Linked DNA regions of Homo sapiens. The protein of the gene in region 1 interacts with the protein of each later gene in a pairwise test. Each region holds a gene or a part of one and is shown on either strand. Other genes may lie near its edges.

Evidence for each region.
Region 2: the proteins of H3C13 (region 1) and DBH interact in binary tests that used the Homo sapiens proteins (3 or more experiments, as listed by UniProt).

The regions. Positions count from the first base shown.
Region 1 is NC_000001.11:149,812,630-149,817,951, reverse strand, and holds H3C13 (histone H3.2), read left to right. Parts: upstream 1-4,258; 5' UTR 4,259-4,270; coding exon 4,271-4,681; 3' UTR 4,682-4,727; downstream 4,728-5,322. UniProt on the Homo sapiens protein: Core component of nucleosome. Nucleosomes wrap and compact DNA into chromatin, limiting DNA accessibility to the cellular machineries which require DNA as a template.
Region 2 is NC_000009.12:133,646,356-133,653,639, reverse strand, and holds part of DBH (dopamine beta-hydroxylase precursor), read right to left. Parts: intron 5,795-7,284; coding exon 5,628-5,794; intron 2,007-5,627; coding exon 1,863-2,006; intron 1,395-1,862; coding exon 1,356-1,394; intron 701-1,355; coding exon 641-700; intron 1-640. UniProt on the Homo sapiens protein: Catalyzes the hydroxylation of dopamine to noradrenaline (also known as norepinephrine), and is thus vital for regulation of these neurotransmitters.

The DNA.
Region 1 (5,322 bases):
AATCTTTTAAATTACTATCAATGTTGCATCAACATCTTACTTATTTGATATTAGTAGTGTAGTATAGTGACTAAAGGAAGACTCTGGAGTTGAAATCTGGTTTGGCACCGACTGTGTGACTATGAGAAAGTTTCTTAACCGCTCTGTGATTCCTCCATCTCCCAATCTGTAAATGGACATACTTACACTACCTACTTGACAGGGTTTTGTGAGGATAAAATGAGTTAATACATGTAAAGTGTTTAAAACATTCTTGGCACCAAGAAAAAGTATGTAAGTGTTAGAAAAAAATATGCATATATAGGCCGGGCGTGGTGGCTCACGCCTGTAATCCTAGCACTTTGTGAGGCCTAGGCGGGTGGATTGCCTGAGCTCAGGAGTTCGAGACCAGCCTGGGCAACACAGTGAAACCTTGTCTCTACTAAAATCCAAAAAATTAGCCGGGCATGGCAGTGTGCACTTGTAACACCCCAGCGTTGGCAACAGATATCTTCTTCTCCCTTGGCTGCTTCAGGGTAGAGAAGAAACATGCTTGCCCCTTTCTGACTCTGTCATAACTCTTGCAGAATGTATCACATTATTTTACATCTTTCTTTTTTTTTTTTTTTTTTTGGAGGCACAGTCTCGTACTGTCACCCAGGCTGGAGTGCCGTGGCGCGATCTGGGTTCACTTGAAGCTCCGCCTCCCAGGTTAATGCCATTCTCCTGCCTCAGCCTCCCGATTAGCTGGGACTACAGGCGCCCTCCACCACGCCTGGCTAATTTTTTTTAAAAAAATATTTTCAGTGGAGACGGGGTTTCACCGTGTTAGCCAGGATCGTCTCTATCTTCTGACCTCGTGATCTGCCCGCCTAGGCCTCCCAAAGAGCTGGGATTACAGGCGTGAGCCACCGCGCCCGGGCTATTTTACATCTCTTTACATCTTAGTACTTCGTCCTGGCTGTTTGTTCCTTACTGGCAGTGATTTTTTTGGGGGGGCGGGGTGCGGGGGACGGATTATCCCTGGGTGGTCCAGGCTGGAGTGCAGTGGAGCGATGTCAGCTTACTGCAACCTCTGCCTCCGGGGTTCAAATGATCTTGTCTCAGCCTCTGGAGTAGCTGGGATTATAGGCGTGGTCCACCCCCCCACCCCTGTTTAACATATAATCAAGAAATAACCATAAAAATGGGCAACCAGCAGCCCTCAGGGCTGTTCTCTCTATGGAGTAGCCATTCTTTTATTCCTCTACTTTCCTAGTAAACTTGTTTTCACTTTATGGACTGGCCCTGAATTCCTTCTTGCTGGATATCCAAGAACCCTCTCTAGGGGTCTGGATCGGGACCCCTTTCCTGTAACACATATTCCAGTGGAATACGTTACATAATAAAGGCAGAAATTGCAAAAAATTTGAGCTTACAGTACAGGTAGTAAGTATTAGGGACCAGTAGAAAGGAGAAAGGTGCCAAGTTTTATCAAATGAGCAAGATATTTAAGGAATGAGTTTATCTCATAATGGGGTAAGGAAAAAAGCTGAGACTCTCATGGCTTCTTCAACTTGGTCCAGGGCTGCAGACCATTCAAGAGAAATTCAAATCAGGCATAGGGCCTCATCAACCCACAAACCAATTCAGCTGGTCTCAGCTTATGATACTTATAACCCTGAGGATACTTGAAGCCAAAAATGAAACATAAATTATCTTATTGGAACATCTATGTTAACTTAGTCCGTTACTTTTGTATTAAAAGTAAACACATGTACATACAAAACATTATGTGCGTAATAATTCATTTATTAATATTTTCTTTTGCCTTCTTATTTCTTGTTAGGTAAATTTTAATCTTCTCTTGTCTATTCCCCCGTGCTACCTAATGAAATTTCTGTTCTCAGTATTCAAGCTGCACAGCCTTATAATTTCTGCTGAAGGACACTTCAAAAATTTTAGGAGGAATATTCCGTCTTTGTTACAACTGAAGAAAAGCAGAGCTTCTTTTGCACCATAAAGTTGCTTCTGATATAGTGGTGGATTGAGACCTTTCACAGAAATGTCACTCTAGTGTCCAATGTGGGGACTAGGTGAAATTGAACTAACAATTGATCTGAATTCTGTTATTAAAGATGACTTTTAAGGCAACTATACATCTGATTGTTTTATTCTGAGAAATGATACCTATAGCCATTAAAGTCTGATTGAATGCCATTTTCTTATTTAAATGAACACATCCTACATTATGGTCAAGACTGCATACATCATAGAGAAAGTATATTGCAAAGAAATGTGATGCTTGGGTGGGCTGCTTTGGGCTATCATCCAGATTCCATGGGGTAGTTTTCCCTTCTAATGGGAATAGTTGGGTGTAGATGTTTGAGAAATACTAGATGATGTGATTGCTTGATGGGAAAACGCTTTTGTGCTTTAAACTGTGTTGGCTGGGTGCGTGGGGCTCATGCCTGCAACCCAAGCACTTTGGGAGGCCGAGGAGGGTGGATCACCTGAGGTCAGGAGTTCGAGACCAGCCTGACCAATATGGTGAAACCGTGTCTCTACTAAAAATACAAATAAATAAATAAATTAGCTGGGGGTGGTGGCTTGCGCCTATAGTCCCAGCTGCTCAGGAGGCTGAGACAGGAGAATTGCTTGAACACAGGAGGCAGAGGCTGCAGTGAGCAGAGATCCTACCACTGCACTCCAGCCTGGGTGACAGAGTGAGACTCCATCTCAAATGAAAAAAAAAAAAAAAAGGTATCCTCTAAGCCTAATGAAATAGAAAGTTTCATCATTACAGTTTCATTCTTTTGCTTTAGAATATTACACAGGCTTTGTTACTTACCCAGGACAAGCCATAATTTCTCTGAGACTCAGTTTTCTTATCTGTAAAGTGAGAAGAGTAACATCTATTTCACAGAGTAGGGATTAAATGATAAAGTGTATGTAGAAGAACTTTAAACACTGAGTAGTGCCTGCTGTCTGTAAGGCATTATTACAAAACTACCACAGAGAGGGATAACATTTGTTCACATCAGTTACACTTTTGTACATTTTAGATCTCTCGAGAGGAGGATGCTTCTGCCCATGAGAGACTCTTGAAGATATTAATTAAGCTCACAGATTTCTACTTTGTGTTTAGTGTTCAGGAAGTCCCCTTGAAATCACTTTTACTTTACTTTGACTTCAGTAGGAAGATAGTTCATAATGACACCATCAAAGTAAGTTTTAAGCGTTTCGGGCCTGCTTTTCTCAGGTTTGAGTTTTTATAGTTTGTAATGATTTTTTTAGTAAAATAAGGATATGATTAAAAGTTTTATATTAACTACTACAACTTTTAAGTATCAGTTGCTTCTACATAACCACTATGATATTTACTGTTCTGAACAATACATACTTCAAAGCACATGAAATTGAAAAAGCAAAGCATCTTTACTCTCTTCATAGAGAACAGAAAAAAAACTAAACTTTTAAGCATTATAAAATACTTTATTGAATAAAATGTTAGCAAGTCAGCAATTGATGAATAATTTGCTTTGAAACTTGAACTTGTAATCTGGCTAATAAGCACTAATTTACAAACTATTCTACATTGTAAAGGAGAAATGAATTTCTGGTGTTGTCCTTCTTTGATTTAGAAGCTTAACATCTGCAGGACCTAATTGGCCATTGATGTGAGGTTGAGGAAGAAGGAACCACATCGCAGGGAGAAAAGACTAAAGGAAGGCAGAGGCTCTAATATCAGGTCAATATAGGTCAGCACACTACCCACATGAAATGGCTTTGGCTGGGTTCCAAGGTCAAGTAAATAAGATCAATTTTTTCATTCCTTCAATTACATATTTTTTTGCTAAGCTTCGGTCATTCATGGTATACAATGCATCTAACTTGCTGAGCAAAATGCCAGACATGAAATAAATGTTAGCTATGGTAGAAGAGCTACAGTAACAGGTAACCTGAAACAGGCTGATAGCTCATAGAAGGGCATGCTTGAATTCGGGGAAAAAAAAAATCTCTGTTAAAATGGGATGCAAAACACTTTATACATTGCTTTTACAAAAGTTAGACTAATTTAAAGGAAAGTCTTCAAAAACAATCCGTGATCGATAAAATTACAGAAAAAAATCAGGAAAGGGGGAAATAATAAGGGAAGAAAGATTAGCAGAACAATCTTCCGCCCCAGTAAAGAGGATTGAATTTTAACCAATGAGATCACAAGTTTGAAAATTTCCTTTTCAGGCCCAATCAAGAGGAGACTATGTCTATAAATATGACTGCCTAGACCCTCTCCTATCAATGAGACAGCATGGCCCGTACTAAGCAGACTGCCCGCAAGTCGACCGGCGGCAAGGCCCCGAGGAAGCAGCTGGCTACCAAAGCGGCCCGCAAGAGCGCGCCGGCCACGGGCGGGGTGAAGAAGCCGCACCGCTACCGGCCCGGCACCGTGGCTCTGCGGGAGATCCGGCGCTACCAGAAGTCTACGGAGCTGCTGATCCGCAAGCTGCCCTTCCAGCGGCTGGTACGCGAGATCGCGCAGGACTTTAAGACGGACCTGCGCTTCCAGAGCTCGGCCGTGATGGCGCTGCAGGAGGCCAGCGAGGCCTACCTGGTGGGGCTGTTCGAAGACACGAACCTGTGCGCCATCCATGCCAAGCGCGTGACCATCATGCCCAAGGACATCCAGTTGGCCCGCCGCATCCGCGGGGAGCGGGCCTAAGGCATATTTTTAAGTGGTCGATCTAAAGGCTCTTTTCAGAGCCACTGCCGTTTTCATCAAGAGCAGCTGTACCGGCTCTCCATCTGATGTGCGTCTGCCTTGCGCAGCGGTCAGGGGCCAGGGGCACTCGTGGTGGGTGACGTTACAGAACCCAAAGCCCAGCCGTGAGTTGGCCGGCAGTAGAGAAAGCCGCAGAGGCATGGTCCTTGTGGTTCCGGCCGAGCGTTTTCACGCTGGTTTAAGGCTAGAGGTCCGGCTCCCAATTCTGTGGGTAAAGTTTTGCATGGGGGCAAGAGACTATGGGGAGTTTCTAGATGTGGAAGATCCTGAGTGTAAGGGTGGGGCGAGTCCCTTAAAAATTATAAACCCGTTTCCTGGTTTATTTAGGAACTATAAGCTTAATTAAAGCTCAGCATCTTCCTCATTGCATACTACAGGCGGTGTCCAAGCCAGAATAGTAATTTAAGCGGGCGGGAGTAAATATCTGGCGATTTTTAAAAATGGGTGAGGTAGTATTTCAAGGAAGAGAAAAAAATTTCCACAAAGTATAGAATAAAAATGCAAAAACGAGGCAAGAGAGTTAACTTGTCTAGCTGGCGTTAAGATTTCTTCCGTATGCAAGTCTAATGGAAAGTGAAAAC
Region 2 (7,284 bases), on another chromosome or scaffold:
TCTCCACCCTCTCCTCCTCTCCTTTCCATCCTGAGAATGTTCTTGGTCCTCTGGGCCTTCCCGCACGCAGCCCCTGCACAGAGCCTTCCTTCACCTCCTCCCCTCTCCCCTGGGCTCCATGTGACAGCCACATTTCTGACAAGGCCCTCCCAGGTCCCCGCACCTCTGCCTCCTCAACCTGGTTTTTAAAGTTTTGTTTTGTAATTTTGCTTGTTGTTAGCAGCAGGTGCTCCAGGCCTGTCTCCCTGGTGCACCTTGAGCTCCACGGGGCAAAGGTCAACCTCTTGTCCTACAGCTTCTCCCCACACCAGCCCCGGGTGCTGAGAAGCTTCTTGGTGTGAGTGCTTCTCAACCTTGAGCAGGGGTCAACATCCGCTGGGAGCTTGTTAAAACATGGATTGCCCGATGCCACCGCCTGTGTCTCTGACTCAGTGGGCCTGGGGTGGCACCCAGGAGGTTGCATTCATCCCAAGCTCCCTGGTGATGCTGCCACTGTGGTTCAGGGAGCTGAGAACGACTGGCTTATTGAGGGGACGAGCCCATGCCCTAAGTGAGGAGTCAAGACCTGTCATCCTTCCTCAGATGGCTCAGGCTGAACACTCGCCCTGGGCAGGTGCAGGGGGAAGCGGGGGTGACTTACCACTGTGGCCAGCTCCCGGTCTTCTGTGTTGTACGTGCAGGAGGTGATGAGCACATCTCCCTGAGGAAAAGCCAATGTGACCATCAGCACCTGCCACCTGGCGTTGGCAGGTGCTGGAGGCCTCGCCCCCATAGGACCACGCCACTGTGCATGCCACGGCACCTCTGGGGTACAGTCCCTGTCGTCCACTACAAGGAGCCCAGCAGATTCATGTGCGAAGGTCACAGGCTGAGTGTTCCCGAGCAAGTTATAAACCATCAGCTCCTGTGACCCAGTGGGTCACAACAGGGCCAGGGCCCAGGCCAGTGGGGGTGCAGCTGGTGGGCCATGACACATCTCAAAGGACTTGGGCAAGTCCCCACCGAGGCCTGGGCTTGGCCCTCTGTGGGATCAGGGCTCCACTGCCTGCCTTAGTGCCCTCATCTCCCCCAAACACTCTCGGGTTTGTGGTCGGCCCATCAGACTGAGGACACGCGTCCCCTGGGAGTGTCCTGTCTGCTCCACTCTTTCCAACGTCTCTCCATGAACTCCTGAGTGAGTCTCCCCATGAGGTAGCCCAGCCCAGAGCCACCCACAGGCACCCTCCCCCTGCCCTGGATGGCTCTCCCTCCCCCTATCACTTTCTGTGTCCCTCTCCTTCTGGTGGCACCCCCAGCCCTCTCAGCCACCCCAGCTGGTGGCAGTGAGTGGGACAGCCTTCCCGCTGGGCACTCACCGGATGGACCGACACGACCTTCTTCAACATGCGGATCTCCTGGGGCAGGCAGAGCCGAGGGGTGGGGGAGAGGAGACCTCAGAGAGCTGCAGACCAGACCCCCGGCCACTGTGTCCTCCCTCAGGCCTCCCTGACCTCTGGGGGTGTCCATTTTGCCCCAGCCTCTACAGTGGAAGCCAGAGCCCGCTAAGTGTGGCTTCTGGCCAGGGAGGGCATTAGATTCAAACCAGAAGGTGGTTATCCAAGACCAAGATTGATGTTCCCAGAGGGCCGCCTGGGTCTCCCGAATCCCACCACCATCTGCCATGTGCCAGAGGCCTCCCTACGATCAGACACCAGACACCCAAGTGGGGAGCACAGGCCACATGGGTGGGGGGCGGGTGGGGCTGGCCCAGGAAAAAGAAGCCAGCCTGGAGCCATCCCTATGGTGTCAGGAAACAGTAGACCCAGGAGGTCGTGTGGTGGCAGGGTGTGGGGGCGGGGCAGGGGTGGGGTGCAGGTTCCTACCTGGAAGTGAGGGCTGTAGTGATTGTCCTGGTTCACGATCTCCCACTCCCGGCCGTCCCGGACCAGCACTGTGACCACCTTTCTCCCAGTCAGGTGTGTGTGGAGCTGAGAGGCGAAGATGTGGATCCCGGAGGGAGGCAGTGCCTGTGGGGTCGGGGGGCTGCAGTGTCAGGGCCTGACCCCCGAGGGGACCCTCCCGTCCATGGCCAGGACCCGGTAGGGAGCAGCCACCCTGGGCAGTTTGCTTCCCTGGAACACTTGCATTTTCTAGGTCTTTCTCCCCGGCCAGGTTAGAGCCACCATCAGAAACCTCACGGGGAAGAGCGAGGGGGCCGCAACAGCCCCCAGCTCCCAAAGAAGCAGCCCCTAGTCCCACTCAGGAGCGACTTTCTTTCCGAGTCCTTCATCCTCTCCTGAGCCCCTGAAGCCTGACAGGTTCATCTTCACTCAGTCAACAGGCCTTTAAGGCGAGCCTCCCGTGGACAGGGTGTGGCAAAGCCACCAAGCTGAGCAGCGCGTGGCCTCTGTGCTGAAGAGCTTGCTGTCCAGGGAAAAGCAAGTGGCAGAAGGTGGTACTTGGCAGGTCCCCTACGTGGTGGGCCGAGCAGGACCTTCAGCTGCCCTGCGTTGTGGCTTCCTTTCAGCTTCAAAGCAGCCAAGGCTGCATTCTCCCTGTGCTCAGCATCACCCCGTGCTACAGCTGGGAGCTGTAGCTACAACTGGAAGGTGGTCATCCAGGACCAAGATGGATGTGACCATGGGGTGCTGCAGCTGGACACTCTGAGGCTGCAGGCCGGCCTCACAGAAAAGATGGCAGCCCTCATCTCAAGAGGTCTTATGCCATCACTGGGGCATGAGAGAATCTTCCAGAGAACGAAAGTTTTCTCTAACCTAATGCTAACTTTTTTTAGATAGAAAATGCATTTCCATGGCTGGGCATGGTGGCTCATGCTTGTAATCCCAGCACTTTGGGAGGCTGAGGCACATGGATCATTTGAGGTAAGGAGTTTGAGAATAGTCTGGCCAACATGGTAAAACCCCGCCTCTACTAAAAATACAAAAATTGGCCGGGCATGGTGGCACGTGCCTGTAATCCCAGCTACTCAGGAGGCTGAGACAGGAGAATCACTTGAACCCGGGAGGCAGAGGTTGCAGTGAGCCAAGATTGTGCCATTGCACTGCAGCCTGGGCAACAGGAGCGAAACTCCATCAAAAAAAAAAAAAAAGAAAGGAAGGAAGAAAGAAAAGAGAAGGAAGGAAGGAAGGAAAGAAAGAAAGGAAAGAAAAGAAAGAAAAAGAAAAAGAAAGAAAAAGAAAAGAAAGGAAAGAAAAGAAGGAAAGAAGGAAAGAAAAGAACACGTCTTTCCTGAAATCGAGCATTTTCTTTGTGAGTCAGTTGTCCTTTTGCCCACCCGCTGCCAGGCTCTGCCCAGTTTGTTCATGCAGTCAGCAGGTCCCAGAGCTCAAGGTCCCGACAGCCCCATCCCTGAAGGTCCCAGATGGCCGAGCTTTTTAGGACTCACTTTTGCTCCTTCCCTCTCGCTCCCAAGCAGCGGCCGCCCTGACCTTGCCGTCGCCTATAGCTTTGTGTCCCTTGCAATGGCTTGAGAGGCCACTGTGTGCCAGGCCTGGGAGCCCAAAGGGTCCCAATGCCCCTTTGGCCCCCAGAGGCCGACCCTGGCCCAGAGATGCCAGGTGTCGGCCAGGTGGAGGGAGGACTATGCTCTTCTGGGCACTCTGGTCCAAAGCAGCACTCTTGTCTTGGCCTATTTCACTGGGATAGCTAGACTAGGCCAGATTTTGGCTGCAGAATTTGTGCCCCTCTTTTATCTGCCAAAGGAGAGACAAGACTGAACATTCTCATTCTGTTACTTAAGGTAGTGGAGGACTCTGGCAAGGGGAGGCGGGTCTGTATTCCTGAGGCTGGAGAGAGGCGTTCTCACAGTCAGCGGTCAGCGGGGTCGAAGGCCCCAAGGCCCTGCAAGGGGCAGTGAGTGCTGCCTGGCCGGAAGCCGCTCTTCCCCATGAGCCCTGGCCAAGGTGCCTTTTACATGGGCCCACGCTTCACCAGTGGGCGCTTTAGGGAAGTGGGAGAGAGTGTCCACCCCCGTCTGGGACAAAAGGAGCTGATTTCCTGCCGGAGACAATGGGTGCCATGCCGGCTGAGAGCTCCGTCTCCCTTCAGCCTTGAGGAACCTTTGCTTGGAAGACTGGGATGCTCTGGGGGCTCACCCACATGAAGAACAAATCCCAATCGACCCATTTACTAGGAAGGAAAATCCACTCTAAACCTCATTACAACGAAATCTGCTGTCACGGCCACAGCTTTCAAAGTCAGACAGACTGGTATTTGAATCTTCACTCTGCGTGACTGCTGGCAGTGTGATCCCAGCAAGCCTCAGTCTCCCCATCTGTGAAATGGGTACGTCAACACTTACTTTGCAGGTCACTGTGAGAAGTAAAGCTACCGCACAGGAGGAAATGTTTGTAACATATACACAAACTATGAAATAACATCCATCATATAAGAAGAACTCCTAGAAACCAACAGTAAGAAAAACAAACCACCTACTGGAAAAACCGAGCATAGGAATGAACAGAAAACAGGAACAAATGGCCAAGAGGCAGAGGAAAAGATCCTCAAGTCCACAAATAGAAAATTCAAGTTAAACAACACTGACATGTCTTCCTCCCAAATGACAGAAAATATTTACAATATTAATAATCCAGTGGGTCAGTAAAACCGGGCACCCTCTCGTCCTATGTGTGGGAGGGAGCAGAAGATGGGCTTTCTGAGGGGCATTTTGCAAGATTTACTCAAGGGAACACTCACATCTCTGAGCAGCAATTTCATGCCTAGAAATCTACATGAGAAAATGGTTTCCTACATGGACAAGGATTTCCCAGAAGCTTCTTTCTATTGGTGAAAAGTTGAGAACAGCCTAGACACTGATTGATAGGGAGACAGTTCAGCACAGGCTTGGACCAAGATAGGGCAAGCAAAGGAGGAGATTTTAGTAGTCACTCTCTGAACTCACCAGAAGCCAAGGACAGGACCTGCTGTTGGCGCCAGTCTAAGCGCCAACCTGTGCCTCCACCCAGCGTGCATAGCCCTGAGGACGGGTGCTCCCTGAGATCCTGTACCCGGCACTTCACTGCCTCACCTAGTCCTGCCCTGCTCAGGTGCGTGGTGAAAACCCCATCCTGTGGAATACTATGCAGCAATAAAAAGGCAAATCACCAGAAAAATGCCTCCCATTTGTTGAAAAATTTGTTAACTATTCAATACAACTTTTTAAAAACACAAAAGGTTTCTAACACCTGCAAGAGCTTCCTGAAATATACAGGAAAAAGGTCTGGAAGGACACAAAGAGCCAAGAAGTGGCTATCTCAGGGGGAGGCGGCAGCGGATGAGGGGAGCGTTCTCTTTAGCTGCAGTGCCTGCGCTTGTGAGTGGCAAGTGCATGTGTGTGTTGCTTACATAATGAAGGCATATTTTAAAATGCAGCTCGTGGAAGCCTGGCACGTGGGTGTGGACTAGTGGGAGCCATGGTTATTGCTGGAGAGGGAGGTGCATACACACACAAATGGCCTCTCAGCAGCAGGGTTCCCTTGCATACAGAAAAGAGGGAGGACCGCAGGGGGATTCAGGGTCAGGGGAAACCAAAGCTGTGCCTGCCACCCTTCGTGGGCCACGACCTGCCAGGCCTCCACTGAGGGACGCGGGAGGAGGGAGGGTGCAGTGCCGGGCCCAGCCCCACTCACCAGCTGGGTGCACTTGTCCGTGCAGTAGCCAGTGAGGATGAAGGCGGTCTCCCGTGGTGGAATGGCCATCACTGGCGTGTACACCAGTCCCAGCTCCATGATCCCCGCGTTGAAGCGCCGCAGCTTGGCTGTGTAGTACAAGCGGATGCCTGAGGAGTCGTTTCGTCCTGGGAGAAGGTGGGATGGATGGAGGTGAGCGGTAAGTGGAGGCCCTCTCACTTCCCCCTGCGGACAGATTATCCCTATGACCCCAGCCACCCTCAGCCAGGAGGCAGGGCCGGTCACCCCCCATCTGCTCCCACCTGCTAGGCAGACCAAGAGCTGGCTGTCTTTGTTTCCACACCTGTGGATGCCAGGCAGCTCGCAAGATCAATTAACGCAAACAGGCTACACTCACTGGGAAGAAAGAGCTGCTGTTTCTATGAAAACTAGTTGAATGCTATGGAAAGATGTGATCAACGTGAGCCACTTAAAGCCTCCATGGAATCAGGTGCGGGTGAGATGCTGCTGATAGACGGAAACTCGTAAACAACTTGAGTTCTGTGCTCAGATTGTTTCATAAGTGCTTTGATGTTCTTCTTCCACGTTCAAAGGAACCTAAGCTGGAAATCAGCCTGCAAGACGGTGACAACCTGCAGGGTGTGGTCTGGGCAAAGAAGAGGGCATGGAACTCCCATCTGCCGATGGCACAGAAGAGCCCTGGCCCTGCGTCAAAGCTGGGCAAGTGTGAGTGTATCTCTGTGTTGAGGTTAACAAGAAGCATTCAAGGAGCACATCCTCCCAGCAGCCCCCACTTTTACTACTTTGATTTATGTCCTGCAGACCCAAGGAACCCACCTACCAAGCTGACATCTCAGGAACAATTTGAGTGAGAATGTGGCCCCCCAGGAGGAGGGCCAGCGTTGCAGGTCTAGCCCCCGTTCATGCACAGGCCAGGTCCTGCTTGGTCAACAGCGTGCTGTGTGCTCTCAGATGACTTGCTGTCCCTTTATGAGCCTCAGCCCACACTCAAGGGCCTCTTCCAAAGGAATAACATGGTGCTTCTTCGAGTCACGGAGACTGTGTCTCCTGATTATGGTGTGGCCACACCTGTTAGTTCTCCTTGCCGTTTGCTAATTGGAGAGTCCCTGAAGCTCCCTGGGCCAGCCTCCCAGTGGTCACATGAAACTGATGGTCAGAGGTCCAGGGGGCCGGGCACGGTGGCTCACGCCTTGTAATCCCAGCACTTTGGGAGGCCGAGGTGTGTGGATCACCTGAGGTTGGGAGTTCGAGACCAGCCTGACCAACATGGCGAAACCCTGTCTCTACTAAAAATACAAAAATTAGCCAGGTGTGGTGGCACGCACCTATAATCCCAGCTACTCAGGAGGCTGAGGCAGGAGAATCGCTTGAACCTGGGAGGCGGAGGTTGCATTAAGCTGAGATCGTGCATTGCACTCCAGCCTGGGTGACAGAGTGAGATTTCGTCTCAAAACAAAAAAACAGAGGTTCAGGGATGCTGGCACCCACTCGAACATCCTCACAACCAGGTGTCATCCAGGTAGCCCCACCGTTCCTGAAACTCCATGCCTAGTGAATCAGCAGCCAGGCTCTGAGTACCGGCTGGGCTCATGGTTGGCGGAGGATCTAAAGGCCTGGCCCCATGCCCCCGGATGCA